Linked DNA regions of Homo sapiens. Changing the gene in region 1 together with any one later gene gives a genetic interaction. Each region holds a gene or a part of one and is shown in the gene's direction. Other genes may lie near its edges. The genes, in order: EGFR, WDR7, STRAP and SACM1L.

The links.
Region 2: changes in EGFR (region 1) and WDR7 together harm fitness more than expected from each alone (negative genetic interaction), as found in Homo sapiens cells (2 studies listed by BioGRID).
Region 3: changes in EGFR (region 1) and STRAP together harm fitness more than expected from each alone (negative genetic interaction), as found in Homo sapiens cells (2 studies listed by BioGRID).
Region 4: changes in EGFR (region 1) and SACM1L together harm fitness more than expected from each alone (negative genetic interaction), as found in Homo sapiens cells (2 studies listed by BioGRID).

What each region holds. Positions count from the first base shown.
Region 1 is NC_000007.14:55,204,001-55,211,028, forward strand, and holds part of EGFR (epidermal growth factor receptor isoform a precursor), read left to right. Parts: intron 1-1,255; coding exon 1,256-1,617; 3' UTR 1,618-7,028. UniProt on the Homo sapiens protein: Receptor tyrosine kinase binding ligands of the EGF family and activating several signaling cascades to convert extracellular cues into appropriate cellular responses.
Region 2 is NC_000018.10:56,654,349-56,661,376, forward strand, and holds part of WDR7 (WD repeat-containing protein 7), read left to right. Parts: intron 1-7,028.
Region 3 is NC_000012.12:15,878,348-15,885,412, forward strand, and holds the start of STRAP (serine-threonine kinase receptor-associated protein), read left to right. Parts: upstream 1-4,039; 5' UTR 4,040-4,360; coding exon 4,361-4,472; intron 4,473-5,193; coding exon 5,194-5,329; intron 5,330-7,065. UniProt on the Homo sapiens protein: The SMN complex catalyzes the assembly of small nuclear ribonucleoproteins (snRNPs), the building blocks of the spliceosome, and thereby plays an important role in the splicing of cellular pre-mRNAs.
Region 4 is NC_000003.12:45,685,129-45,692,395, forward strand, and holds the start of SACM1L (phosphatidylinositol-3-phosphatase SAC1), read left to right. Parts: upstream 1-4,267; 5' UTR 4,268-4,337; coding exon 4,338-4,369; intron 4,370-5,219; exon of another isoform or gene 5,220-5,259; intron 5,260-7,267.

The sequences.
Region 1 (7,028 bases):
ATATGTAAGTTATATATATGTTAGTGTAATATCTAATATATAGTTTATTGGCTATCTAATATAATATAAACAGATTATCAATATTATAAGCTATTAGAAAAATGCAAGTTAAGGCAGATGATATACCTCTTTACACACCAACTACACACACCAACTACACACACACATACACACAGACACACACGACACACACCATACACATGTACACACACACCACATATACACAAACGTACACACACACCACACACACATACACACCACACACACACCACACATACATACACATCCACACACCACACATGTACACACGCCACACACACACATACACACCACATACACATATGTATGCACACATACACACCAACACCACACAGACACCACACATGCATAAACATATAGACATATACACACCACACACCATATGTACACATGTACACACACACCACATATACACACAACACACACAAATACACACACCACACACACACCACAAAAACCCCACACACACACAAACATATACACCCCACACATACGCATATATACACACACACATACACACCACACACATACACACCACACACACACCACACATACACACACGTACACACACCACACACACACCACAGACACACACCACACATACATACACATACACACACCACACACACGTACACACACCACACACACCACAGACACACATAGACACACCACATACACACCCACACCACACACACACAACTCATACCACACATACATACACAATAGACACATACACACCACACACACCATACATACACACGTATACACACACCACATATACACACACGTACACACACACCACACACACCCACATGCACACACCACACACACATACAAATATACACCACACACACATACACCACACACACGGTGCACATACACACACATATACACACACCAGACACACATACCACATACACATCACACATATATGTATACATGCATACACATACACACACACATACACACACTCTCCTCAAGGCAGTTTATCCTCTGAGAACTTTAAATTTACAAAAGACACATATGTCCATTACTTTGAGAAGGACAGGAAAGAACCCACTTTCTTTTGCAGCAACAGCAAGAGGGCCCTCCCGAGGCTCCTGCTCCCTGTCATAAGTCTCCTTGTTGAGGACATTCACAGGGTTCAGAACCCAGGGATCCTGCATGGGATGGTGCTTTGCTGATTACTTCACCTCTGATTTCTTTCCACTTTCAGAATACATAAACCAGTCCGTTCCCAAAAGGCCCGCTGGCTCTGTGCAGAATCCTGTCTATCACAATCAGCCTCTGAACCCCGCGCCCAGCAGAGACCCACACTACCAGGACCCCCACAGCACTGCAGTGGGCAACCCCGAGTATCTCAACACTGTCCAGCCCACCTGTGTCAACAGCACATTCGACAGCCCTGCCCACTGGGCCCAGAAAGGCAGCCACCAAATTAGCCTGGACAACCCTGACTACCAGCAGGACTTCTTTCCCAAGGAAGCCAAGCCAAATGGCATCTTTAAGGGCTCCACAGCTGAAAATGCAGAATACCTAAGGGTCGCGCCACAAAGCAGTGAATTTATTGGAGCATGACCACGGAGGATAGTATGAGCCCTAAAAATCCAGACTCTTTCGATACCCAGGACCAAGCCACAGCAGGTCCTCCATCCCAACAGCCATGCCCGCATTAGCTCTTAGACCCACAGACTGGTTTTGCAACGTTTACACCGACTAGCCAGGAAGTACTTCCACCTCGGGCACATTTTGGGAAGTTGCATTCCTTTGTCTTCAAACTGTGAAGCATTTACAGAAACGCATCCAGCAAGAATATTGTCCCTTTGAGCAGAAATTTATCTTTCAAAGAGGTATATTTGAAAAAAAAAAAAAGTATATGTGAGGATTTTTATTGATTGGGGATCTTGGAGTTTTTCATTGTCGCTATTGATTTTTACTTCAATGGGCTCTTCCAACAAGGAAGAAGCTTGCTGGTAGCACTTGCTACCCTGAGTTCATCCAGGCCCAACTGTGAGCAAGGAGCACAAGCCACAAGTCTTCCAGAGGATGCTTGATTCCAGTGGTTCTGCTTCAAGGCTTCCACTGCAAAACACTAAAGATCCAAGAAGGCCTTCATGGCCCCAGCAGGCCGGATCGGTACTGTATCAAGTCATGGCAGGTACAGTAGGATAAGCCACTCTGTCCCTTCCTGGGCAAAGAAGAAACGGAGGGGATGGAATTCTTCCTTAGACTTACTTTTGTAAAAATGTCCCCACGGTACTTACTCCCCACTGATGGACCAGTGGTTTCCAGTCATGAGCGTTAGACTGACTTGTTTGTCTTCCATTCCATTGTTTTGAAACTCAGTATGCTGCCCCTGTCTTGCTGTCATGAAATCAGCAAGAGAGGATGACACATCAAATAATAACTCGGATTCCAGCCCACATTGGATTCATCAGCATTTGGACCAATAGCCCACAGCTGAGAATGTGGAATACCTAAGGATAGCACCGCTTTTGTTCTCGCAAAAACGTATCTCCTAATTTGAGGCTCAGATGAAATGCATCAGGTCCTTTGGGGCATAGATCAGAAGACTACAAAAATGAAGCTGCTCTGAAATCTCCTTTAGCCATCACCCCAACCCCCCAAAATTAGTTTGTGTTACTTATGGAAGATAGTTTTCTCCTTTTACTTCACTTCAAAAGCTTTTTACTCAAAGAGTATATGTTCCCTCCAGGTCAGCTGCCCCCAAACCCCCTCCTTACGCTTTGTCACACAAAAAGTGTCTCTGCCTTGAGTCATCTATTCAAGCACTTACAGCTCTGGCCACAACAGGGCATTTTACAGGTGCGAATGACAGTAGCATTATGAGTAGTGTGGAATTCAGGTAGTAAATATGAAACTAGGGTTTGAAATTGATAATGCTTTCACAACATTTGCAGATGTTTTAGAAGGAAAAAAGTTCCTTCCTAAAATAATTTCTCTACAATTGGAAGATTGGAAGATTCAGCTAGTTAGGAGCCCACCTTTTTTCCTAATCTGTGTGTGCCCTGTAACCTGACTGGTTAACAGCAGTCCTTTGTAAACAGTGTTTTAAACTCTCCTAGTCAATATCCACCCCATCCAATTTATCAAGGAAGAAATGGTTCAGAAAATATTTTCAGCCTACAGTTATGTTCAGTCACACACACATACAAAATGTTCCTTTTGCTTTTAAAGTAATTTTTGACTCCCAGATCAGTCAGAGCCCCTACAGCATTGTTAAGAAAGTATTTGATTTTTGTCTCAATGAAAATAAAACTATATTCATTTCCACTCTATTATGCTCTCAAATACCCCTAAGCATCTATACTAGCCTGGTATGGGTATGAAAGATACAAAGATAAATAAAACATAGTCCCTGATTCTAAGAAATTCACAATTTAGCAAAGGAAATGGACTCATAGATGCTAACCTTAAAACAACGTGACAAATGCCAGACAGGACCCATCAGCCAGGCACTGTGAGAGCACAGAGCAGGGAGGTTGGGTCCTGCCTGAGGAGACCTGGAAGGGAGGCCTCACAGGAGGATGACCAGGTCTCAGTCAGCGGGGAGGTGGAAAGTGCAGGTGCATCAGGGGCACCCTGACCGAGGAAACAGCTGCCAGAGGCCTCCACTGCTAAAGTCCACATAAGGCTGAGGTCAGTCACCCTAAACAACCTGCTCCCTCTAAGCCAGGGGATGAGCTTGGAGCATCCCACAAGTTCCCTAAAAGTTGCAGCCCCCAGGGGGATTTTGAGCTATCATCTCTGCACATGCTTAGTGAGAAGACTACACAACATTTCTAAGAATCTGAGATTTTATATTGTCAGTTAACCACTTTCATTATTCATTCACCTCAGGACATGCAGAAATATTTCAGTCAGAACTGGGAAACAGAAGGACCTACATTCTGCTGTCACTTATGTGTCAAGAAGCAGATGATCGATGAGGCAGGTCAGTTGTAAGTGAGTCACATTGTAGCATTAAATTCTAGTATTTTTGTAGTTTGAAACAGTAACTTAATAAAAGAGCAAAAGCTATTCTAGCTTTCTTCTTCATATTTTAATTTTCCACCATAAAGTTTAGTTGCTAAATTCTATTAATTTTAAGATTGTGCTTCCCAAAATAGTTCTCACTTCATCTGTCCAGGGAGGCACAGTTCTGTCTGGTAGAAGCCGCAAAGCCCTTAGCCTCTTCACGGATCTGGCGACTGTGATGGGCAGGTCAGGAGAGGAGCTGCCCAAAGTCCCATGATTTTCACCTAACAGCCCTGATCAGTCAGTACTCAAAGCTTGGACTCCATCCCTGAAGGTCTTCCTGATTGATAGCCTGGCCTTAATACCCTACAGAAAGCCTGTCCATTGGCTGTTTCTTCCTCAGTCAGTTCCTGGAAGACCTTACCCCATGACCCCAGCTTCAGATGTGGTCTTTGGAAACAGAGGTCGAAGGAAAGTAAGGAGCTGAGAGCTCACATTCATAGGTGCCGCCAGCCTTCGTGCATCTTCTTGCATCATCTCTAAGGAGCTCCTCTAATTACACCATGCCCGTCACCCCATGAGGGATCAGAGAAGGGATGAGTCTTCTAAACTCTATATTCGCTGTGAGTCCAGGTTGTAAGGGGGAGCACTGTGGATGCATCCTATTGCACTCCAGCTGATGACACCAAAGCTTAGGTGTTTGCTGAAAGTTCTTGATGTTGTGACTTACCACCCCTGCCTCACAACTGCAGACATAAGGGGACTATGGATTGCTTAGCAGGAAAGGCACTGGTTCTCAAGGGCGGCTGCCCTTGGGAATCTTCTGGTCCCAACCAGAAAGACTGTGGCTTGATTTTCTCAGGTGCAGCCCAGCCGTAGGGCCTTTTCAGAGCACCCCCTGGTTATTGCAACATTCATCAAAGTTTCTAGAACCTCTGGCCTAAAGGAAGGGCCTGGTGGGATCTACTTGGCACTCGCTGGGGGGCCACCCCCCAGTGCCACTCTCACTAGGCCTCTGATTGCACTTGTGTAGGATGAAGCTGGTGGGTGATGGGAACTCAGCACCTCCCCTCAGGCAGAAAAGAATCATCTGTGGAGCTTCAAAAGAAGGGGCCTGGAGTCTCTGCAGACCAATTCAACCCAAATCTCGGGGGCTCTTTCATGATTCTAATGGGCAACCAGGGTTGAAACCCTTATTTCTAGGGTCTTCAGTTGTACAAGACTGTGGGTCTGTACCAGAGCCCCCGTCAGAGTAGAATAAAAGGCTGGGTAGGGTAGAGATTCCCATGTGCAGTGGAGAGAACAATCTGCAGTCACTGATAAGCCTGAGACTTGGCTCATTTCAAAAGCGTTCAATTCATCCTCACCAGCAGTTCAGCTGGAAAGGGGCAAATACCCCCACCTGAGCTTTGAAAACGCCCTGGGACCCTCTGCATTCTCTAAGTAAGTTATAGAAACCAGTCTCTTCCCTCCTTTGTGAGTGAGCTGCTATTCCACGTAGGCAACACCTGTTGAAATTGCCCTCAATGTCTACTCTGCATTTCTTTCTTGTGATAAGCACACACTTTTATTGCAACATAATGATCTGCTCACATTTCCTTGCCTGGGGGCTGTAAAACCTTACAGAACAGAAATCCTTGCCTCTTTCACCAGCCACACCTGCCATACCAGGGGTACAGCTTTGTACTATTGAAGACACAGACAGGATTTTTAAATGTAAATCTATTTTTGTAACTTTGTTGCGGGATATAGTTCTCTTTATGTAGCACTGAACTTTGTACAATATATTTTTAGAAACTCATTTTTCTACTAAAACAAACACAGTTTACTTTAGAGAGACTGCAATAGAATCAAAATTTGAAACTGAAATCTTTGTTTAAAAGGGTTAAGTTGAGGCAAGAGGAAAGCCCTTTCTCTCTCTTATAAAAAGGCACAACCTCATTGGGGAGCTAAGCTAGGTCATTGTCATGGTGAAGAAGAGAAGCATCGTTTTTATATTTAGGAAATTTTAAAAGATGATGGAAAGCACATTTAGCTTGGTCTGAGGCAGGTTCTGTTGGGGCAGTGTTAATGGAAAGGGCTCACTGTTGTTACTACTAGAAAAATCCAGTTGCATGCCATACTCTCATCATCTGCCAGTGTAACCCTGTACATGTAAGAAAAGCAATAACATAGCACTTTGTTGGTTTATATATATAATGTGACTTCAATGCAAATTTTATTTTTATATTTACAATTGATATGCATTTACCAGTATAAACTAGACATGTCTGGAGAGCCTAATAATGTTCAGCACACTTTGGTTAGTTCACCAACAGTCTTACCAAGCCTGGGCCCAGCCACCCTAGAGAAGTTATTCAGCCCTGGCTGCAGTGACATCACCTGAGGAGCTTTTAAAAGCTTGAAGCCCAGCTACACCTCAGACCGATTAAACGCAAATCTCTGGGGCTGAAACCCAAGCATTCGTAGTTTTTAAAGCTCCTGAGGTCATTCCAATGTGCGGCCAAAGTTGAGAACTACTGGCCTAGGGATTAGCCACAAGGACATGGACTTGGAGGCAAATTCTGCAGGTGTATGTGATTCTCAGGCCTAGAGAGCTAAGACACAAAGACCTCCACATCTGTCGCTGAGAGTCAAGAACCTGAACAGAGTTTCCATGAAGGTTCTCCAAGCACTAGAAGGGAGAGTGTCTAAACAATGGTTGAAAAGCAAAGGAAATATAAAACAGACACCTCTTTCCATTTCCTAAGGTTTCTCTCTTTATTAAGGGTGGACTAGTAATAAAATATAATATTCTTGCTGCTTATGCAGCTGACATTGTTGCCCTCCCTAAAGCAACCAAGTAGCCTTTATTTCCCACAGTGAAAGAAAACGCTGGCCTATCAGTTACATTACAAAAGGCAGATTTCAAGAGGATTGAGTAAGTAGTTGGATGGCTTTCATAAAAACAAGAATTCAAGAAGAGGATTCATGCTTTAAGAAACATTTGTTATACATTCCTCACAAATTAT
Region 2 (7,028 bases), on another chromosome or scaffold:
CTCGATCTCTTGACCTTGTGATCTGCCTGCCTCAGCCTCCCAAAGTGCTGGGATTACAGGCATGAGCCAGCGTGCCCTGCCGAATCTGAGTATTTCTTCATGTGTGTTTTATCTTTTTTAATTTTTTGTTTGTGAAATTGCCTGTTCATCCCTTCACCCATTTTTATTTTGGGGTTTCAGTTCTTTCTTGTTGATTTGCGGACATTTCTTGTATTCCATAGATACTAATCATTTAAGTATTACAAGTGTATCTGTTCCTAATCTGTCATTTGTCTGTAATCTTTCTCATGATGTTCTTCATTGAACAGAAATCTTATATTTTGATATAATCAAATTAAAAAATCTTTTGGCTATATGGTTGTATTTTGGAGGTTTTGTTTAAGAAATCTTTCCCCAGTGCTGTGCCACAAAGTTACTCTGCTATGTTATGTACTGCTAATTCATAGTTTTCTTTTAAACTTATTGGTCTTTAATACATGCAGAGTTTAACTTTTTATGTGTCACAAGTTTGTGATCCAGTTTATTTTCCATGTACTGTGCCAGTTTTCCTGGCATCTTTCTTCCCTTTTCCCATAGATATGGTGTCACACTGTGTATTAAGTGCTCATATATACTCTGAATATTGAGTCCTTTCCTTTGGTTTGTCTGTTCTTGCTCTAACACTATACTGTTTTAACTCTATGGTTTTGTAGTAGTATGTTTTTTCCTCCTATATAAATAACTCTTCCCATTTATTTTGTTTTAACTTTATTTTGATATAATTATAGGTTCATAGGAAGTTGCACAAATAGTAAAGAGAGGTCTGGTTTCCTCCAGTGGTTACATTTTATGCAGCTTCACCCAAGGAACTTCCCTCAATAGTTACAATTTATACCACTGTAGTACAGTATCAAAACCAATAAATTGATTTTGTACAATGCCTGTGTATAGTTCTGTGCCATTTTATCACCTGTGTGGATTCCTGCAACTACCTCTGCAATCAAGATACAGAGCTAGGCTGATGTGGTTGACCATGCCCGTAGTCCCAGCACTTTGGGAGGCTGAGGTAGGCAGATTGCTTGAGCCCAGGAGTTTGAGACCAGCAACATGTCAAAACCCCGTCTCTGGCAAAAAATACGAAAATTAGTCTGGTGTGGTTGTGCATGCCTGTAGTCCCAGCTACTTGGGGGGCTGAGGTGGGAGGATCACCTAAGCCTGGGAAGGTTGAAGCTGCAGTGAGCTGTGATTATGCCACTGCACTCTAGCCTGGGACAGAGTAAGACCCTGTCTCAAAAAAAAAAAAAAAAAAAGAGGAAGAAGATATGGAACTATTCTATCACTACAAAGATTTTCTTCATGTTACCTCTTTCTAGTTTCATCCACCTCCCTTACCCTCACCATCCCTTAATCAGTTTAATCAGTTTCTATCTCTATAATTTTGTCATTACCAGAGTGCTATATAAATGGAATCCTATAGCATGTAATCTTTTGAAATTGAGATTCATCCAAATTGTTGAATGAGACAGTTCTTGAGATTCATCAACATTGTTGAATGAGACAGTTCTTGAGGTTCATCCAAATTGTTGCATTTATCAATAGTTTGTACTTCTTAATTGTTGAGTAGTATTCCATGGTACGTATGTATCCAAGTTTAACCATTCACCTGCATATCTGGGCTGTTTTTAATTTTTGGCTGTTACAGATAAAGCTGCTGTGAACATTCTTGTACAGTTTTGTGTGTGTGTGTGCGTATGGATTTAAATTTTCATTTTTTGGGGGATAAATGCCCAGGGACATGGTTGCTGGATGGTATGGTAAGTGTATGTTTAGTTTTTGAAGTAACTCCCAAAGTGTTTTCTGGAGTGGTTGTACCATTTTACATTTCTACCAGGAATGTATGAGAGATTGCATTTCTTTGCATCGTCTTCCACTAGCATTTGATACTGTCACTGTTTTTTTTTTTTTTTTTGGAGATGGAGTCTTGCTCTGTCACCCAGGCTGGAGTGCAGTGGCGCAATCTTGGCTCAGTGCAACCTCCGCCTCCCAGATTCAAGCAATTCTCCTGCCTCAGCCTCCCGAGTAGCTGGGACTACAAGCGCATGCCACCACACCTAGTTAATTTTTTGCATTTTAGTAGAGATGGGGTTTTACCATGTTGCCCAAGCTGGTCTCGAACTCCTGAGCTCAGGCAATCTGCCCGCCTCAGCCTCCCAAAGTGCTAGGATTATAGATGTGAGCCACTGCGCCCGGCCACTATTTTTTTTTTTTTTAACTGTTCTGATGTGTGATGATATCTCAGTGTGGTCTTAATTTGCATTTCCCAAATTAGCTAGTGATGTTAAATATCTGGTAGAGCACTTTCTCTCATCTTTGCCCATTTTCAAAGTTTGGCTCAGCTATTTATGTATTTTTATTCTTTCCTATGTATTTTAGAGTTAGTTTGAGTTTCTAAAAACAATACCAGTAGAACTTTGACTTACAGATTTATTTTGAGGAAAATTGATATCTTTATAATATTAGGACATTTTATCTGAGAACATGGAATGGTCTTTCACTTATGACTTTGAGTAAAATATTGTAGTTTATAAAAATACTGTGAATGGTATACTATTTTTTAAGTAGATTAGTGCTGATACAAGAAAATGCTATTGATTTTCATATATTGATAATCTACCTTTGTCTTTTTGTGTTCTACTAGACAGAAATCAAAATTCATAGTGTAAATCTTGAAGTAATTTTAGTGCGTGTAGAGTGAGGCCTGGAACTATGTAGTGCCTTTATTCCTGGGTTTATCTGTTACATCTCCCTGTGACAGTTTTTTAATTTGTTGGGACTTTTTTTTTTTTTTTAGATGGAGTCTCACTCTGTTGCCCAGGCTGGAGTGCAGTGGTGTGATCTCAGCTCACTGCAACCTCCAACTCCCAAGTTCAAGCGTTTCTCCTGCCTCAGCCTCCCTAGTAGCTGGGATTACAGGTGCCCGCCAGGACACCCGGCCAATTTTTGTATTTTTAGTAGAGATGGGGTTTCACCAGGTTGGTCTCAAACTCCTGACCTCAGGTTATCCTCCCACCTAGGCCTCCTGAAGTGCTGGGATTACAGGCGTGAGCCACCATGCCTGGCAATTAAATTATGGAGTTAGTGAGGTTTGTAGGTTCTGTTCTCATTTTTGTCCATTTAATTCATGCACTTTTTGAAGAATTAATAGTCTTACATATGTGCATGCCATTGATCATAGGCAAAATCAGCTGAGAGCTATGGATAGCTCAGTGAAATTCTGCCATCAATAAGAGGACATGTTCTCACTGACAGGTACTATGATAGTAATGTTAACTTACAATTTGAATTCCATCCATATGGTTCGTTTGTCTTTGTCTGTATCTGATTCTTAAAGCTGCTTTGCTGAATACAAAAGAACACAAACAATTATGTTGGAAGAAGAAATCCTACATCATGACTGCATTCAGAAAGTCCTTGTGAGTCCAAGGAAATTTTTACTTCCTTTCTATTAAGGAACATATATATTACATTCATGAAGTATTTACTATTTTAAATAAAATTGGATTTTTTTTCAAACTATGTTGGTGACGTTTAATGAAATTACAGGGGTTTTTTTTTTTGGCTGTTGATTACTTGAGTTAGTGGGAGCCATAAAATGTTGGAACAACGAATGTTAGGGCACTGGTCAGTTTAGGGGAGGGAAGATTTCTGAAGTGCTAAGCGTTATTCTGTAGGCTCTTTAAAATATAACATTTCTGGAGATATGTGACTTTGTTTTTTTGTTTTGTTTTGTTTTTGACACAGAATCTCGCTCTGTCGCCCAGGCTAGAGTGCAGTGGTATGATCTCGGCTCACTGCAACCTCTGCCTCCCCGGTTCAAGCAATTTTTCTGCCTCAGCCTCCCAAGTAGCTGGGATTACAGGTGTGCACCACCACACCCAACTAATTTTTGTATTTTTATTAGAGACAGGGTTTCACCATGTTGGCCTGGCTGGTCTCAAACTCCTGACCTCAAGTGATCTGCCTGCCTCGGCCTCCCAAAGTACTGGAATTAGTCATGAGCCACTGCGCCCAGCCTGGAAATACATGACTTTGAAAATGCAGTCTCCCATTCAGCTTAGCAGTTGTAATTTATGACCCTACAAGCTCACTGAAGATAGTTTTTTGCACATCATGTTTCTCTCTGAATGTTGGTAGTTGGTATATGTCAGTGATAACAGACTGATAGAGTGAGCCAGTTACCTTCTGTTTTCACATTCAAGTTTATTTCACATTTAAGCTATCTTCCTTAAAGGCTCTTCTTTTTTCTAAATGTTTCAAATACAAATAAACAGTATAAACTTCCATTAGTTGGAGCAAAAAATTCACACGAATGAAATATCACTGTACTTACTTACTTTTTTTTAACGACAGAGTCTCACTCTGTTGCTCAGACTGGAGTGCAGTGGCATGATCTTGGCTCACTGCAACCTCCACTTCCTGGGTTCAAGCGATTCTCCTGCCCCAGCCTCCTGAGTAGCTGGGACTACAGGCGTGCACCACTGTGCCCAGCTAATTTTTGTATTTTTTTTTTAGTAGAGATGGGGTTTCACCATGTTGGCCAGGCTGGTCTTGAACTCCTGATCTTGTGATCTGCCAGCTTTGGCCTCCCAAAGTGCTGGGATTATAGGCTTGAGCCACCGCGCCCGGCCCCCTGTACTTACTTTTAAGAAACAGTGTTGTGATTAATTACTAGGCCTTAGTGACTGTAGTAGTGATTATGTCAGCTAATTTGCTTCATAGGCCCTAAGATATATTTTGCTGTGTATATGTCACGATAGACTAAAAGAGGCAGGAGCGTAGGTAAAACCTGTAGCTGGGGAAAAAAACAATATGTTAATGACATTTTGATTAAGGAGGCTTGTATTAATTGTTGACATTATTATAGAAGAACTAGTTGACAAGAAACTGCCCTGTGAAATCCAAAACATATAAAATCGGGATATACTTTAATTTGCTGATGGGTGCAACTTTACTTAAACCAACGCAAACATATTTCATTCACTAGTTTGTTTATTTATTCAAGTATTTGGATTCCTTCTATGTGGAAGGAATTTTAGGCACTGGGAATACAATAGAGAAGAAACCAAACACAGATCTTTACCATCATAGAACATACACCAGGAGAGGCAGATGATAAATAAATAAAACATATGGTATGTTAAATGATTGTAAGTGTTTAGTTTGAGTGGTAGATTTTGCAATTTATGATGGTCAGGAAACTCTTCACTAAAAAGGTAATATTTTATAGAGATTTGAAGAGGGCAAAGGAGTGTGCCAGAAGGAATCTGGGGTGGGGGACACTGTTCTGAGGTAAGATTCTGTTTAGTATCTTTGAGCAACACCAATGAATCAGAGCAGATGGAAAAGAGTAAGCAAGGGAGAGAACAACCACCTCACTCATATAGGATAGGCAGTTGTATGTAGAGTTGGCTTTTGCTATGTGTGAGACAGGAAGCCATTGGAAGATTTTGAGATGTGATCACAGCATGATTTTTTTTTTTAATAGTGTCACTCTATATGCTGTGTTGAGACTGCAGGGGAGCAAAGATGGAAACAGGGAGACCAGTTAGAGGGCTGTTGTGTTATCCCTGATGGAAGATGCTGATTGAGAATAGGGTGGTTGTAGTGAAAGTGTTGAGATGTTGCAGGATTCTGGATATGATTTGAAGGTATAGCCAGTGGAGTTTACTGATGGATTGGGATGTGGAATGTGTATGTGTGAGAGAGTAATAGAGTAACTAAAGATGATTCTAGGATTTTGGTCTGTGTAGCTATAAAACTGGAGTTGCCAATAACTAAGATGGGTAGACTGTGGGAGGGGCACCATTGAGGAATGATCAGGGGCTCACTTTTGGACATGCCAAGTTTGAGAAACTTATTAGCTATCCAAAAGGAGATGTTGAGTAGGAAGCTGGACATACTGATTTGGATTTCAGAAAAGCATCCCACACAATAAACTGGGGAACTGTCAAAATCTGCAATCCAAAATGCTCCAAAATCCAAAACTCTTGAGCATAAACATGACACTCCAAAGAAATGCTCATTGGAGCATTTTGCATTTTAGATTTTTCAGATTAGAGATGCTCAACCTGTAAGTATAATACAAATATCCCCAAATTTGAAAAAAATCCAAAATCTAAAACACTTCTGATCCCAAGTGTTTCAGATAAAGGATACTCAACCTATAGATGGTTTAAAGCAATGAGGCTTGATGAGATCATTGAGGGAGGGAGTGTTGCCAGAGAAGAGAAGTCTAAGGACTAAGTTGTGGGAATGCCAATATTTAAAGGTTAAAAAAAAAAAAAAAGAAAGAAAAGAAAGAAAGGAGACTAAAGCTAGAGAAGAAGAAGGAAAGTCAGGAAAAAGTGAAGACTTTGAGGCCAGGTAAAGAAGTATTTATTTCAAAGACGGAATATGAACTATGTCAAATTGCTGGTAGGTCAAGTAAGATAAGGGTTAGAACTTGATAATGGATTTAACAGTGGGGAGGTCATTGGTGACCTTGTCAAGGGCAGTTTTTGTGACAGGCAGAGCAGGAGGAGGGTAATGTTACAAATGAGAAGTTTAACTTGAGACATCACATATTTCCTCAGAGTTTAAAATGGAAATGGAGAGCTGGGTTCCTCTCTAGTTAGTGTGACTTTCATACCTTCACAGTTGCCCATCTTATTTTAGTGATTCCAAGACTAATGTGACAATTCAGCTTCAAATTTGGGGAAGCATGTTTGTTTCTTCTTTTTCTGTTTAATTCAATTTATATACAACGAGAAAGTTCAGTGCTCAGTTTAGACTTTTGATGGCAACCTAAGGGAAGAAATTGGAATGACTGGAGATGCAAATGAGATTAGAGGTGGGTGGCAGGAGAAAGTCGAAGTTGGTTCAACCAAATGGAATTTCCTTTAAAAAGTAAGGTCTTGGTGGGCATAATGGGCTTTTAGCTTAATCAGTAACTCTTGAAATTGCTGTAGGTTGGTGATGGATACAGCATAAGCAGAAGAGTTCATTCATTA
Region 3 (7,065 bases), on another chromosome or scaffold:
ATTTGCAGTGACCTGGATGAGATCGGAGACTATTATTCTAAGTGAAGTAACTCAGGAATGGAAAACGAAACATCGTATGTTCTCACTGATAAGTGAGAGCTAAGCTATGAGGACGCAAAGGCATAAGAATGATACAATGGACTTTGGGGACTTGGAGGGAGGAGTGGGAGGGGGGACGAGGGATTAAAAGACTACACATATGGTGCAGTGTATACTGCTTAGGTGATATGTGCACCAAAGTCTCACAAATCACCACTAAAGAACTTACTCATGTAACCAAATACTAACTGTACCCCAATAACTTATGGAAAAATAAAAATAATAATTTTAAAAACGTCATTGCCCCTCCCCCCCAAAAACTGGAACTTTTATTTGCAATTGTATTGAAACTGTAAATCATTTTGGAGATGTATTTGTTTTCTAGGTCTGCCATAACAGATGTTGGTGGCTTAAACAATGGAAATTTATTTTCTCACAGTTCTAGAGGCTAGAAGTCCAAGACTAAGGTCTGTAAATTTCCTTTCTTCTCTGAGGCCTTTCCCCATGACTTGCAGATGGCCACCTTCTCACTCTGTCCTCATCTGGTCATTCCTTTGTGTTGTCTGTGTCCTCATCTCCTCTTCTCAATAAAGATAACTGTTGCATTGGATTAAGGCCCACCCATATGACCTAATTTTACCTTACTTATCCAAATACAGTCACATTCTGAGATAGTGAGGATTAGGACTTTAACATAGGAATTTGGAGGAGGGGAACCCAATTCAGTCCATAACAGGAGAGCACTGATATTTTCCCAAAATTGAACCTGCCAACCCACAAACACAATATATCCATTTTCCATTTATTTTAATATTATTTAATGCCTTTAATAGAGAACGATACATTTTGCTGAGAGGCATTAAATAATATTGAACATCATGTTGGGTATTCCTTTATTTAACGAGATCCCCTTTTCTCCTTTTTGTACTATGGTTTAAGTCCTAGAAGGTTGACATTTATGGACCCCATTAAAGGGCTCCCTTGTCTTCTGGGCTCTGGCTGGGTTTGACCAATGGGAAGCATGGGAGATCTAAAAGTAGATATTCATTTCCCCACTTCTTCCCCATGGCTGTGCTGATGATAATTGGGAGCAGTTGTGTTCTTCTACTGATTATTCCAGCTCTCGCCCAGAGCCTTCTCCTGCAACCGTACCTTTCTCAAATAAATCAGGTTCAGATAACTGCTCCCTTTCAGTTTCTCATTCAGATCTATGGTTAGTGCCCTATTTTCTCCTTGTTGTTTACTTTTGATCCTGGCCACACTTCTGTAACTAATCCCTTCATTACACTGCTCTCAACTTCTACATTTCAGCGTGCCAGTTTTTTTTCTGCTGGGGAGTACACTTTGTTTTTTTATTCCTATGTACTTTATAATTCTTGATGCTATTTAACATGGCATATTTTAAAATTACATTTTTTGTTGTTGCTAATGTATAGAAATGTGATTTCTTCATTACACTTAAAACAACAACAACAACAACAACAAAACCCAGTAACCTAGGCATCGCACCCAGCCTGGGTAACATAGTGAGACTTCATCTCTTCTAAAAAAAGAAAAAAACAACTTCAGTAACCTTTCTAAATTCTCTCATTAATTCCAATAATTTTTATTTTTATTTTTTTCTTTTGAGACATGGTCTTACCTCATTGTCCAGGCTGCAGTGCAGTGGCAGAAATTGGGCTTATTGCAGCCATGAACTTCTGGGCTCAAGCGATCCTCCTGCCTCAGTGTCCCGTGTAGCTGGGATCACAGTAGTGTACCACCATGCCTGGCTAATTTTTTTATTTTTTTGTAGAGCCTGGGTCTCACTTTGTTGCCCAGACTGGTCTTGAACTCCTGGGCTGGAGTGATCCTCCCATCTCAGCCACCCAAAGTACTGGGAACTGGAATTACAGGCATGAGCCACCACACCTTGCCTCTTTTCTTTGTATATAACCTCTAAAACAATTTCTAATCACAGATTTACAACTTTCTTTGGAAGATTTATGCATTTTTAAGTTACCTGAACATCTAGTACGATGCTGTATTGAAGAGGCAGTAGCAATCATCTGTCTCGTACCTAATCTAATACAGAATGCTTTCTGTATTTCACCATTAGGTGTGGGGTTTCAGATATTCTATGAGGTTAAAAAAGTCCCTTCTATTTCTAGTGTCTCAGAATTCTTATAAGTGAAAGAATGCTGAATTCTATCAAAAACTTCTTACACATCTTTTGATATGATTTTCTTTAATCTTTTAATATTGTTAATTATATCAATTACATTAACCTGTCTTCTAATATTAAATTGACCTTGAAGCCTACCCAATTGGTCATAATACACAATACTCTTAGAACTCAGAATCCAAATGAGCAGGAAATAATACATTCTTTAGAGCCAAGTATGTACCATAACTTACCAATTATATTCTTATCTACACACAATGAGCAATAAATGAACATGTATCAGTATCTGACCAGTTGTGTCATTTTGAGTGGGTCTTTTATTTACCTCCATCAGTAATGCAACAATCTATTTAATCAGTAAACAGTCATGCTGAGTATTCACTAAATGCCATTCACTTTTCTGGCACTAGAGTACAAATGACAAAGCCATAACCATTGCCATTAAGGAGTTCATAAATGTGTGAGTGGTGCGTATGTGTGAGACAAAAGGGAGAGGATGGCACAAAGGAGGAGTCGAACAAGATAAAATGAAAAACATATATAGTAAGTGCTTTACCGTAAGTGAATGAACGAGAGTACTAAGGAAAAAGAATGGAGACGTATTTCAAGTTCTCACGTTGTTTGACTCGAATCTTGTAGACGGTGTTTGCTGCAAAAAGATGAAGAAAACATTCACAGACATTTATGTTGATTACATATTTATTGCTATGTGCCCAGACGTTTTGACCTTGGGGATAAAGTAGCAAAGAAAACACAAAAATCTCTGTTGTATTGGGTTTACATTCTATCAATAAAGATACAACTTGCCCAGAGAAAAGCCCTCTCCTGGTTAGGAAACAGTATCAACAATTAACAGCTCTGGTGGTTTCACAGAGCCACAGTGGGCTGCCTGCTGCAGACAATATCAGAGTTTGTTTATATTTAAATATTATTTTAATATTTCTATTTTTGTCCATGTATTATAATGCACATCTATGTAATTTGCAAATCATCACTCATATATACATCATATCAAAAGGTGTAAAAGTTTTTGATAGAATTCAGCATTCATTCGCTTATAAAATGAGTGAAGGCTCACTTTACGGATGAGAGTATTTCATCAAAAAAATTGGGGATCTACGACTCTAGAGTTCTCCGAAGTCCACCAAGGAAAAAGTAACTTGAATTTAATCGCATTTAAAACTATATAGTATCCACTCCTAAAACATTAGCAACATAGGAAAACTTACACAGCGGAAGAAATGACTGGGGATTTTTTTTTTTTTTTTAATACATGGTCTCGCTCTGTTGCCCAGGCTGGAGTGCGGTGGCGCGAGCACCGCTTACTGCGGTGTCGACCTCTCGGGCTCGAGTTATCCTCCCACCTCAGCCTTCCAAGTAGGTGGGACCACAGGCACCACCACTCCAAGCCCGTATATGGTTTTTAAATAAGACAAATTGCAAAAAACGTTGCCAGACAGCGTTCGCTGGTTTGGGCCGTCACTGGGTATGGCTCGTGTCCGTCTAGATATTCAGAGGCCGAGCACAGTCCTCAGTAGGGCTGCTCGGCAGGTACACAGCTGACGCTGGTCCTTGGACTTATGGGAGTGGGAACAACTTTCAACTCGGCCGCGGACCAGGAAGGCGTTCTGACCCGCTAGAGCTCGGGGACAGGGACCCCATCCCGGTGCCTAGAGCGTCTCCCTTAGTCGGCGTGGGCCAGCGCCAGTTACCTCACGAGCACTGAACTAGCGCCTGCGCCCTTCTATACTTCTCGCTCTTTCTTCAAGTCACTTCTACCCGGCGAGCCCGCCCTCCCGCCAATCGTCATTTCCGGCGGGTGCTCTGCGTCATTTACGTCGTCACTTCCTGCCGATGCCGGTGTGGACGCTGTGAATCGTGGCTGGCCCGGTTCTCCGCTTCTCCCCATCCCCTACTTTCCTCCCTCCCTCCCTTTCCCTCCCTCGTCGACTGTTGCTTGCTGGTCGCAGACTCCCTGACCCCTCCCTCACCCCTCCCTAACCTCGGTGCCACCGGATTGCCCTTCTTTTCCTGTTGCCCAGCCCAGCCCTAGTGTCAGGGCGGGGGCCTGGAGCAGCCCGAGGCACTGCAGCAGAAGAGAGAAAAGACAACGACGACCCTCAGCTCGCCAGTCCGGTCGCTGGCTTCGCCGCCGCCATGGCAATGAGACAGACGCCGCTCACCTGCTCTGGCCACACGCGACCCGTGGTTGATTTGGCCTTCAGTGGCATCACGCCTTATGGGTATTTCTTAATCAGCGCTTGCAAAGGTGAGCAAGGCCGCAATCCTGGTCCTCGACGGCTGGGACTGGGCTGAAAGGGATCGGGACCCGCACGCTCCAGTGCCGAAGCGGTGGTGTGGTGAGGGGGGAGGGGGCGATATTAACATCTGAGATGAGAGCCAACACTGGTCCGGTGGAGAAAGGAGTGTGTTAGGGAATCCGCAGCTGGAGCCGAGAGGACGCTTTTGTAGAAACTATTACCTCCAACTAAGACCTCTCTCCTTATTTTATTTTTATTGCTATTTTTGAAGGAGCTGGTCAGCATTTGCCTAGACTCTCGGGACAACACGGTAAATAGCTTTCAAGGATTTGGGGAAAGGAGAAATTAGGCCAGGCCGTGCAATACCTTACAAAGACGTTCGCTCTTGTCTCACTGGATATTCCTTTGTGGTATTAGCCTCATTTTTCAAATGGGAAACTGAGATTCAGGCTAAGATGTCTGTCCAAAATAAGACTAAAATCTAGATTGTTTTGACGCAGATCAGTATTCCCAGCCAATTACAGATGCTTTTCAGAGAGAATGATCTGTTCAGCTCTTCAGTTAATTTATTACTGCACATTCCTTAGTGCCTTCAGTGGGTGGTGGTAGTTAAATAGCTGAAACAATTTTTCCACTTTGTCATTGAACATCATTGTATATTTACATTTGAATCTTAGACTTTAAGTAATCTGAACTTATAAATTACATGTTTTAAAAAATATTTTCTAGATGGTAAACCTATGCTACGCCAGGGAGATACAGGAGACTGGATTGGAACATTTTTGGGTCATAAAGGTGCTGTTTGGGGTGCAACACTGAATAAGGATGCCACCAAAGCAGCTACAGCAGCTGCAGATTTCACAGCGTAAGTGTAGCCAAGATGGCTAACTTTGGTGTTCTCTGTAGCTTGTGTCCTGAAATAATCAAAAACTTCAGTGTCAGATATTCATAAAATTCTGACTCACTGGCTGCCATACAGAACGCATGTTTGATCCCACCAAAATTCCATCGTGGTCCATCGTGGTCCTGTGTGCTTCTTTGTCTTCAGTGGTTCTCAAAATTTTCAGAGGCCTAAATGACTTATTCCGTATATTTTGATTGAGACTCAGGAATCTGCATTAACAAACGCACCAGATAATGAATGTTGATCTCCTTTACGAATGCTGCTCTGTGTGTACTCCTTAGTGATATCCTACATTGATGGCCCTAGGTTTTTATTTCAATCCCGGTTTTTGTTAACTGGCTTTAGGCATCATTAAAACTCATTGTGTCAAAAACAAACAAACAAAAAAACAACAAAAAAACAAAACTCAGCTGCTCGTCATTTCCTAAGTTTTTAAAGGTTGAAATCTAAAGCATTCTTGATTTTCCCTTATATCTAGATTATCATCATCTTTTTTGATTCTGCCAGCGGGATGTCTCCTGACTCCAATGTTCCTTCATGTAGTAACTGTGGCTGCCTTAGTTCAGGATCATTTTTAACTTTCAGTAGTTTCTTTTCCTCCTATTCATTTTCCATATTGTTGCCAGTTGTCTTCCTAAAAACATACTTGATCATGTCACTTCTCTACTAATGATCTTCCTGTCTTCCCTTTGCCATTTTAGTAGTTCATGACCTTTGATGTACATTAGAATATCTGGAGAGCTTTTCAAATATTCAAATGGTATGAGTCCCAGAAATTCGGATTTTTAAAACTTTTTTTTTTTTTTACTTTTTTACTATATATTTATATTTTATACTTTTTACTACATTTAAAAATATTTTTTAATACTTTTTACTATACAGACAGTATCTAGCTATGTTGTCCAGGCTGTCTTAAACTCTTGGCCTCCATGCCTCAGCCTCTCAAAGAGCTGGGGTTACGGGGGTGAACTACTGTGCCTGGTACAGAAATTCTGGTTTGATTGGTCTGGGGATGGAGTACTGGTCATACTGATTATTGGTGTTTTTTTATTTTTCTTTCTTCCTTTTCTTTCCTGATGTGCAGTCATAGAATTGCTGACCTAAAGGACACATTTCAATTGTTGGCCCTTTACAGTTTGCTTCATCCTAGTTCATCAGCATCATCCTCTGCCATTGCACACCATAAACCTACAATCTAATTATACTAATCTTATTGTTGCCAGAATATACCTTACCTGTTCTGACTTTTGGCGGTTAATTATGTTATTAAACTGACTTGCAGTGGCCCTCGTTGCCTTTTTGGGAATGTATCATATTTTATAAATCTTGTTATCTCCAGTTCCTACTTGGTATTTGTAACTTAGGAATTTGACACTTCATTGTTTAAACTGATGAAGGCAATATCAAGAACTGTTGTGCATACACAGATTTATTAGACTTAAGAGGCTAGAGAGTACAAGTGGTGTTTTTTTTTTTTTTTTTTTTTTTTTAAAGACAGAGTCTTGCTATGTCCCCAAGGCTGGAGTGCGGTGGCACAGTCTCGGCTCACTGCAACCTCCACCTCCCGGGTTCAAGTGATTCTCCCACCTCAGCTTCCTGAGAGGCTGGGACTACAGGTGCACGCCACCACGCCTGGCTAATTTTTGTATATTTAGTAGAGACGGGGTTTCGCCATGTTGGCCAGGCCGGTCTCGAAC
Region 4 (7,267 bases), on another chromosome or scaffold:
GTAAAAAGTTATATAACAATTTTACTATAGGAAAAACTTGGCTACAGATATGAATTTATATTACCCATCATTGGCTGGTTCCTTATCCTGAACATTGGTTTCCTTGGAATCTGATTTTGGCTTGTTTGGCCTTTAAAAACCCCAGAAGAATGGGGTTTCTGCCAGATTATTTTCTGGTTTTCAGTCTCACTGAATGTCACAAAGGCCTTGGTTTATGGTTCCCAACTGGTAAAGAAACGTCAAACTTTGCCTCTCTTAGTTCCTTCTACATGACAATGGGTGGCAGTTGCTCATATGGAAGCATTTCTTTTCCCCCTAAAGCCTATGAGACAGGCTGCAACTTAAACCCCTATTTTATTAAAGGAGAGGAAATGTCCAAGAGCCCAGAGATAGTGGGTAAAAGCATCATAAGGACTAGAAATGGGGTCTTCTTGTTGCTAATTAGTAGGGGTGAGGGGTAAGTGGCAGATGTGACTGCCGTCCATGCCCAGACAGGGAATTGTCCTTGAACCTACTCATGCGGTGTCTTCTGGGGTACAGTGAGTCCACAGGGCAGGACGGCCTTGGAGTCAAGAGCCCAGACTCACATTCTATCTCAGGCTTCATAACTCAATTGCTCCATGACCTTAAGCCAATTTAGTTCCCTCATCTGTAAAAATGGGGATAACAACTGAATTTACCTCATGGGATTGTGTAATGCCCAACCTTGTTTTTACTAACCCTGTTTTTAGACTCTCCCTCTTCCTTTAATCACCTAGCCTTGTTTCCACCTGAATTGACTCTCCCTTAGCTAAGACAGCCAGACAGACTCCATCTTGGCTCTTTCACTGGCACCCCTTCCTCAAGGACTTAACTTGTGCAAGCTGACTCCCAGCACATCCAAGAATGCAATTAACTGATAAGATACTGTGGCAAGCTATATCCGCAATTCCCAGGAATTCGTCTGATTGATAACGCCCAAAGCCCCGGGTCTATCACCTTGTAATAGTCTTAAAGCCCCTGCACCTGGAACTGTTTACTTTCCTGTAACCATTTATCCTTTTAACTTTTTGCCTACTTTATTTCTGTAAAATTGTTTTAACTAGACCCCCCCCTCCCCTTTCTAAACCAAAGTATAAAAGAAAATCTAGCCCTTTCCTCAGGGCTGAGAAAATTTTGAGTGTTAGCCGTCTCTCGGTCGCTGGCTAATAAAGGACTCTTAATTCGTCTTAAAGTGTGGCGTTTTTCTAACTCGCTCAGGTACAACAATTGTTGTAAGGAATGATTGAATTCATCCAAGTAAGGGAATTAGAGCAGTTTCTGGCATGAAGTAATTGCTCAATAAAGTGTGTCAGGTTTTAAGATTAATTGATCTTTACATCATGATAAATGGCAACAAAATAAATGACAAATGGATTAAAGTAAATGGTAAAAACAACATAAGAACAAAACATTAAAAAATCATATAATAGAAGAAACCAAATATTAGTAAGTGTGAATATATAAAGTGAAAATTACTACAAGTTCAAATATATATATATATATATATATATATATTTTTTTTTTTTTTTTTTTTTTGAGACAGAGTTTCACTGTGTCACCCAGGCTGGAGTGCAGTGACGTGATCTCAGCCAACTGCAGCCTCCACCTCCCAGGTTCAAGCAATTCTCCTGCCTCAGCCTCCTGAGTGGCTGGGACTACAGGCACACACCACCATGCCTTGCTAATTTTTGTATTTTTAAATAGAGAGAGGGTTTCACCATGTTGGCCAGGCGGGTCTCGAACTCCTGACCTCAAGAGATCCACCTGCCTTGGCCTCCCAAAGCACTGGGATTACAGGCATGAGCCACCGTGCCCAGCCGTTAAAAAAATTTTGAAAAGGTAAATCATAAGCTGGAAAAAAGATTGCAACGTATTTAAGAGTTAATACCCTTAATATATTAAAAAATCAAATTTGTAAGAAAAAATTCAATACATCAAGAGAAAATATATAAAGTACATGTAAAAGGAAGTTCCATATTCCAATTATGAAAATTGCAAATCACGGTTAAATTTATAATAGCCAGTGTTGGTTAGCATGCACGAAAACAGAGAAACAGGTGCTGTTGATGGAAGTGTGTTTTGGTTTAATTTTTTGGAGGGCAGTCAGAAAGTAACAAAAGTCTTAAAAATGTCCATAAAATGGACCTTACAGATGTCCACCTGGTCGTTCCACCTCTAGAAATTTGTAAGACAAATAATTCGGCCGGGCACAGTGGCTCACATCTAACCCCAGCACTTTGGGAGGCTGAGGTGGGCGGATCACGAGATCAGTAGATCAAGACCATCCTTGCTAACACGGTGAAACCCCGTCTCTACTAAAAAATACAAAAAATTAGTCGGGCGTGGTGGCACACACCTGTAGTCCCAGTTACTTGGGAGGCTGAAGCAGGAGAATTGCTTGAACCCGGGAGGCAGAGACTGCAGTAAGCCGAGATCACGCCACTGCACTCCAGCCTGGGTGACAGAGCGAGACTCCGTCTCAAAATAATAATAATTCAACACAGGGTCTCATTCTGTTGCTCAGGCTGGAGTGCAGTGGCATGGTAACAGCTCACTGCAGCCTCAACCTCCTGGGCTGAGGTGATCCTCCCACCTCAGCCTCCTGAGTAGCTAGGACTATAGGTGCACACCACCACACCTGGCTAATTAAAATTTATTTATTTATTTAGTAAATAGAGATGAGGTCTTGCTATGTTGCCCAGGCTGGTCTCGAACTCCTAAGCAGCATCATTTTTTCTAGGTGTTAAACTGACAACCACCCAAATTCCCAGCATAAGGATTCTGCTTAAAATATCTAGCTCTCTGATGAAATATCTTCAAAGAATATTTAATGACCTTAAATCTCAGACAAAAAGGTAAGGAGACAAAATGAGGAACCCATTTCCGTACAACCCCAATTTGGAAAAACACATGTGCAAGTATGCCCATGTTAAAAAATATAGAAGAAAAAAAGGCTTTAAGGAAAAAAAAAATAATAGTAATGATTTAGGGTGGGAATCGCGTTAATATTCCCAATAATTTTATATATTTTAAAAATCTATAATTTTATCAGGGGAAAACGTTATGTTGCGGAAATTAATTGATCGATTGAGTGATTGGTTAACGGACAGTGTCCGATGACTCATATAATCCCCCGGTTCGAGTCCCTTTAGGCCGCAGACGTTTCGCGCCTTCTCGGGTGTCCAAGTCGCGCATCCATACAATGAGGGGTAATATACTAGATTACCTGAGGTCTTCTTACGGTAAAAACACCGGTGTCTTAAGGTTTCCCAGTGGAATTTGGGGGCCGGGTTGACTTCGGAGCTGGAGCTCGCAAAGGCCGGGGCTGCTGCAGATTCTGACGCTTTGTGGACCCCTACTACCGAGCGCAGCCGCACCGCAGGTTTTCTTCGCTGCTGGTTAGATCCAAAGCCCATCCCATCCTAGTAAACTGGGACAGCGCCGCTTCTCACATCACTATGGGGGCTTCTGCTCCGTGGCGGGGAAAGGCCAGAACTGCTGCCTTAAATACGCTTTTGCATCATCCGGTTGCTAACCTCCGGCCACAGCATTCCCCACTCCAAAATGCCACTTTTCCAGGTGTGTTTGCCTAAATTTACCCCATTTACAGACTTCTCAGGTGCATCATTGGGAACAGGGCGCTTTGCAGTTTGCAAACCACCTCAGACAACTCCAGGTTTAAAGGATAAAGGATGACATTGTGAGCAAAGCGGCATCAAAATTTCAGATATTTAACTTTCACATTCTAACCATACACCTTTCCAAGGTCTTGTAATACTTTCACATTGTGAATATACATCTTTACAAGACCCAGTAGTACATGGGTCAAGTGTGGCAAAACAGACATCGCGAGCCAGCCAGGAGTCGAACCTAGAATCTTCTGATCCGTAGTCAGACGCGTTATCCATTGCGCCACTGGCCCCGACTTGCTAAAGCCTTCTCCGTGATAGCTGATCACCCTTATACAGTTTGAACGGGCTTCCGGGTACCAACGATCCATTTTGCCCTTGCGCCGCGCTCCCGCTGCTCTGCCTTTCCCCAAAACGCGCCCCACCAATCCGCAGCGGCTTCGTCACGGCGCTCTTCGTCGCACTCCAACCCGCCGCGTCGGCGGCATCTCTCGCGTGCTCTTGCTTGCGCACTAATTTGTCCTCCACCGCCTCCCGTTCAGGCCGGCTCTCCTGCGGGGCGGGGAAAGGGGTGGGAAGAGGCTGGGAGCTGCGGCCGCTGTGCCAGGGTGACCGGTAGAGTTGTAGCCGAGGTGGCGGCGCGGGGCGGGGCGGGCGGAGAGAGAAGGAAGGAGGTGGTTGTGCAGGATGGCGACGGCGGCCTACGAGCAGCTGAAGCTGTGAGTCCCACGGGCCAGAGGCCTGAGGCGCGGCGGGCGGGGCGGCAGGTGCGGGCCCTGGCCTCGGGGAGGGCTTCTGAGTCCCGGATTGCAGATAGGGTGTGGGAGCTCCTCGCATTTACCGGTTTTCCTCAGCCGGCGCGGCCTCTCCTAGGCCTCGCCCGAGTAGCCATAGGCCGGGAACCAGCGGCTCGCCGGCCTTTCTCCACCGTGCTCGGCCCCAGCGCCCACGGCTGAAGAGAGAAGCTGCCGACTGGCCCCCACCGAGCCGGGGTCGGCGTTATGATGCGGCCCTTCAGGGCACGCTTGTCCCCACTTTCTATGCAGAGCTACCGACTAAATTTATCTGTATGACTTAACAGAGAAAAAGAGTTTTCTCTTACTTAACGGACCTACAGCAGCAATTTAGAGTCTACGCACAAATCAACAAATCTTTGTTTTGCTTACAGCCTATCTGGGTACCGAAGCCTGCCTGCCCCCTCTTCAGTGTGCAGAAAAAATTTAAAGTACAGTCAGTAGTCTTAAGGTCCTGAAGGAGTTTACTTTGGTTTAAATTTTAAACAGCTCCAGCCTAAAGCAGGTTCTTAAGTCAGTGTCGACAGCCAGAGGCTAATCTCGGTAATTTTGGTACTGCAAATTGACTTTTCGGTAAATCCAAGTTCTTGAGTCTTTGATACAGAGGCTGTGGTTGTTAAGAGTTATAAAATAGGTGTTTTTAAGGGTTTTGGTTTGTCTTGGATTAAAAACAACATGTGTTTATTTCCCTTAGTGTTACCCATTAGCATCCACACTTTTCTTGTCTGTGAATAATTTTGTTGTACTCACTTCGTGTTTAATGCTTTACCCCTAGGCTGTTTGAAAATCTGGTGGCCACAGCCTGGGAATATCTGGTAGGAGAAACAAATGTAATTTTTTAGAAGCTTATCTATCCCTGTATATGAGCTAAAATACCTTGGCAGTTAGGCATAGATACCGCATTTCTTTTGCAGGGAAATGACACCAAAATGTGGTTTGGGCACTTAAGCTCCTCAGACCTCAACCTCACTAGTAACTTTCTGAAAGGTTCAGTGGAAAGTTAGAGGTGCAAAATTCAGAGAGGTCATCTATTCCACATTGTATGTGTTGCAAAAAAGATGATTGCTTTTTCTACAGTGCACCCCCTGTGGGTGCCATTTCTGTTTACTGTAATGTTCTTTGAAAACCCTAGCTGCACACTTCCCTCCACATTTTCCTCTCCACCTTTCCCTATTTTCTCCCAGTTCCCCTTTGCAAAGTGCTCACCTCGTCTTTGGTGAAAGAGTTGAAGGAAGTGTCTTCCACTGCGTTTCTGGCCAGGCCACTGTCACATGTGCTCTGCTAGCTAATTAGGTTATTGTGTATCTGATAGGCACTGAAGGGTTTAATGTGATCCTACACCAGGTCTCAAATGTGTTTAAGCCATATGGAGCCATGGCTTCATGCAGCTTAGCGTGGCAAAGATTGAATAGGATGGAGAACTTGAGAATTATGATGATTGTTTTTCAGCTGCCAGAACACTAAATTTAACCAGTTCAGACCTTAAAACAAACCCAAATCCTCGCATACATAAAAGAGAAAGGAAATTTGTCCCTGAAGTAGTAAGAATGATGTTTTTGTATTGATTTTTGTGAGAAGTGGAAACTCTTAAATTATTTGGGTGATAAAGTCAAACTGGGGTTATGTGAAAGTCATTCTCTCATTTGTCAGTCCTAGCTTTTTTTCCCCCTGAAAAAAAAGTTTAGAGTGTTTCTGTAAATGTGAAGGTACAACTTTTTTGCACCTTTTTCTTTACCAAGGGGTTTATGAGTTAGAGTTTCCATTTTTATTCCTTCCTTTTGGCCCTTCCTGCTCTGAGGCTGCTGTTGAAGGTTTTCAAATGTGGCTCCTGCCCTAAGGAGTATTCTTTTTTGGATGCATTTAGAAGTGAAATTGGTTTCTGTGTAAGAATTGGTAGGAGATAGTAGCCATTTTTTAAAATGTGTCTGGAGATGTGTTTTAAGAAATATCCATGCAAAAGAGATAGTTCGATTATTTTATTACAAAAGGATTGCTAAAAGGATTTATTTAAATGTTGAAATGCTTGTTTTTTTTTTCTTTTGTTTCGTTTTGTCTTTAAAGAGATGGGGTCTCATTCTGTTGCCCAGGCTGGAGTACAGTGGTTTGATCATAGCTCACTGCAGCCTCTAACTCCTAGTCTCAAGCGAGCCTCCCACCTCAGCCTCTCGAGGAGCTAGGACTACAGATGCACACCACCACACCTGTCCTACTTCGGATTTTAAATAATAATTCTGTCTGCATTATGCCATGCTTTTTCTCCAGCCCATCTCTGCCTTGTTGAATTTCACCTTTCTAATGCTCTGGTTTTATCCTCTACTTTCCTGCTTACAATTTCCAGTTCCATCTTACTGACCTATAGGATCAAACTTGCATTTCTTAGCCATCTGTATATTCTAGCCTTTTTATAATCTGTCGCCTAATTTATTTCCCGTAACTGCCCAGAGCCTTTTCCCCACTTCTGCAAAACTTGGCTCATCCCCTTCTAGCTTCAAACTTGGGTGTTATTTTGATCCTTCTACCCAGAATGCCTTCTTCCTCTCTGTTCTCTTTACATACTGGTCACATCCATGGTAGAGCCAAGAGATCTCAGGTTTTGTTAGTCAGAATGGATATGGATTCATATCTTAACTTGACTACTTGTTTTGTGTCCTGGGCATAGTACTTAATCCTTCTGAATTGGTGTTTCAGTCTGTAAAATGGGAATGTTGATACTTCACAGGATTATTGTAAGGTTTGAAAGAGAGTTTTTTTTTTTTTTTATTATTTTTGTGAGACAGGGTCTCACTTGTCACCCAGGCTGGAGTGCAGTGGTGTGAGCTCAGC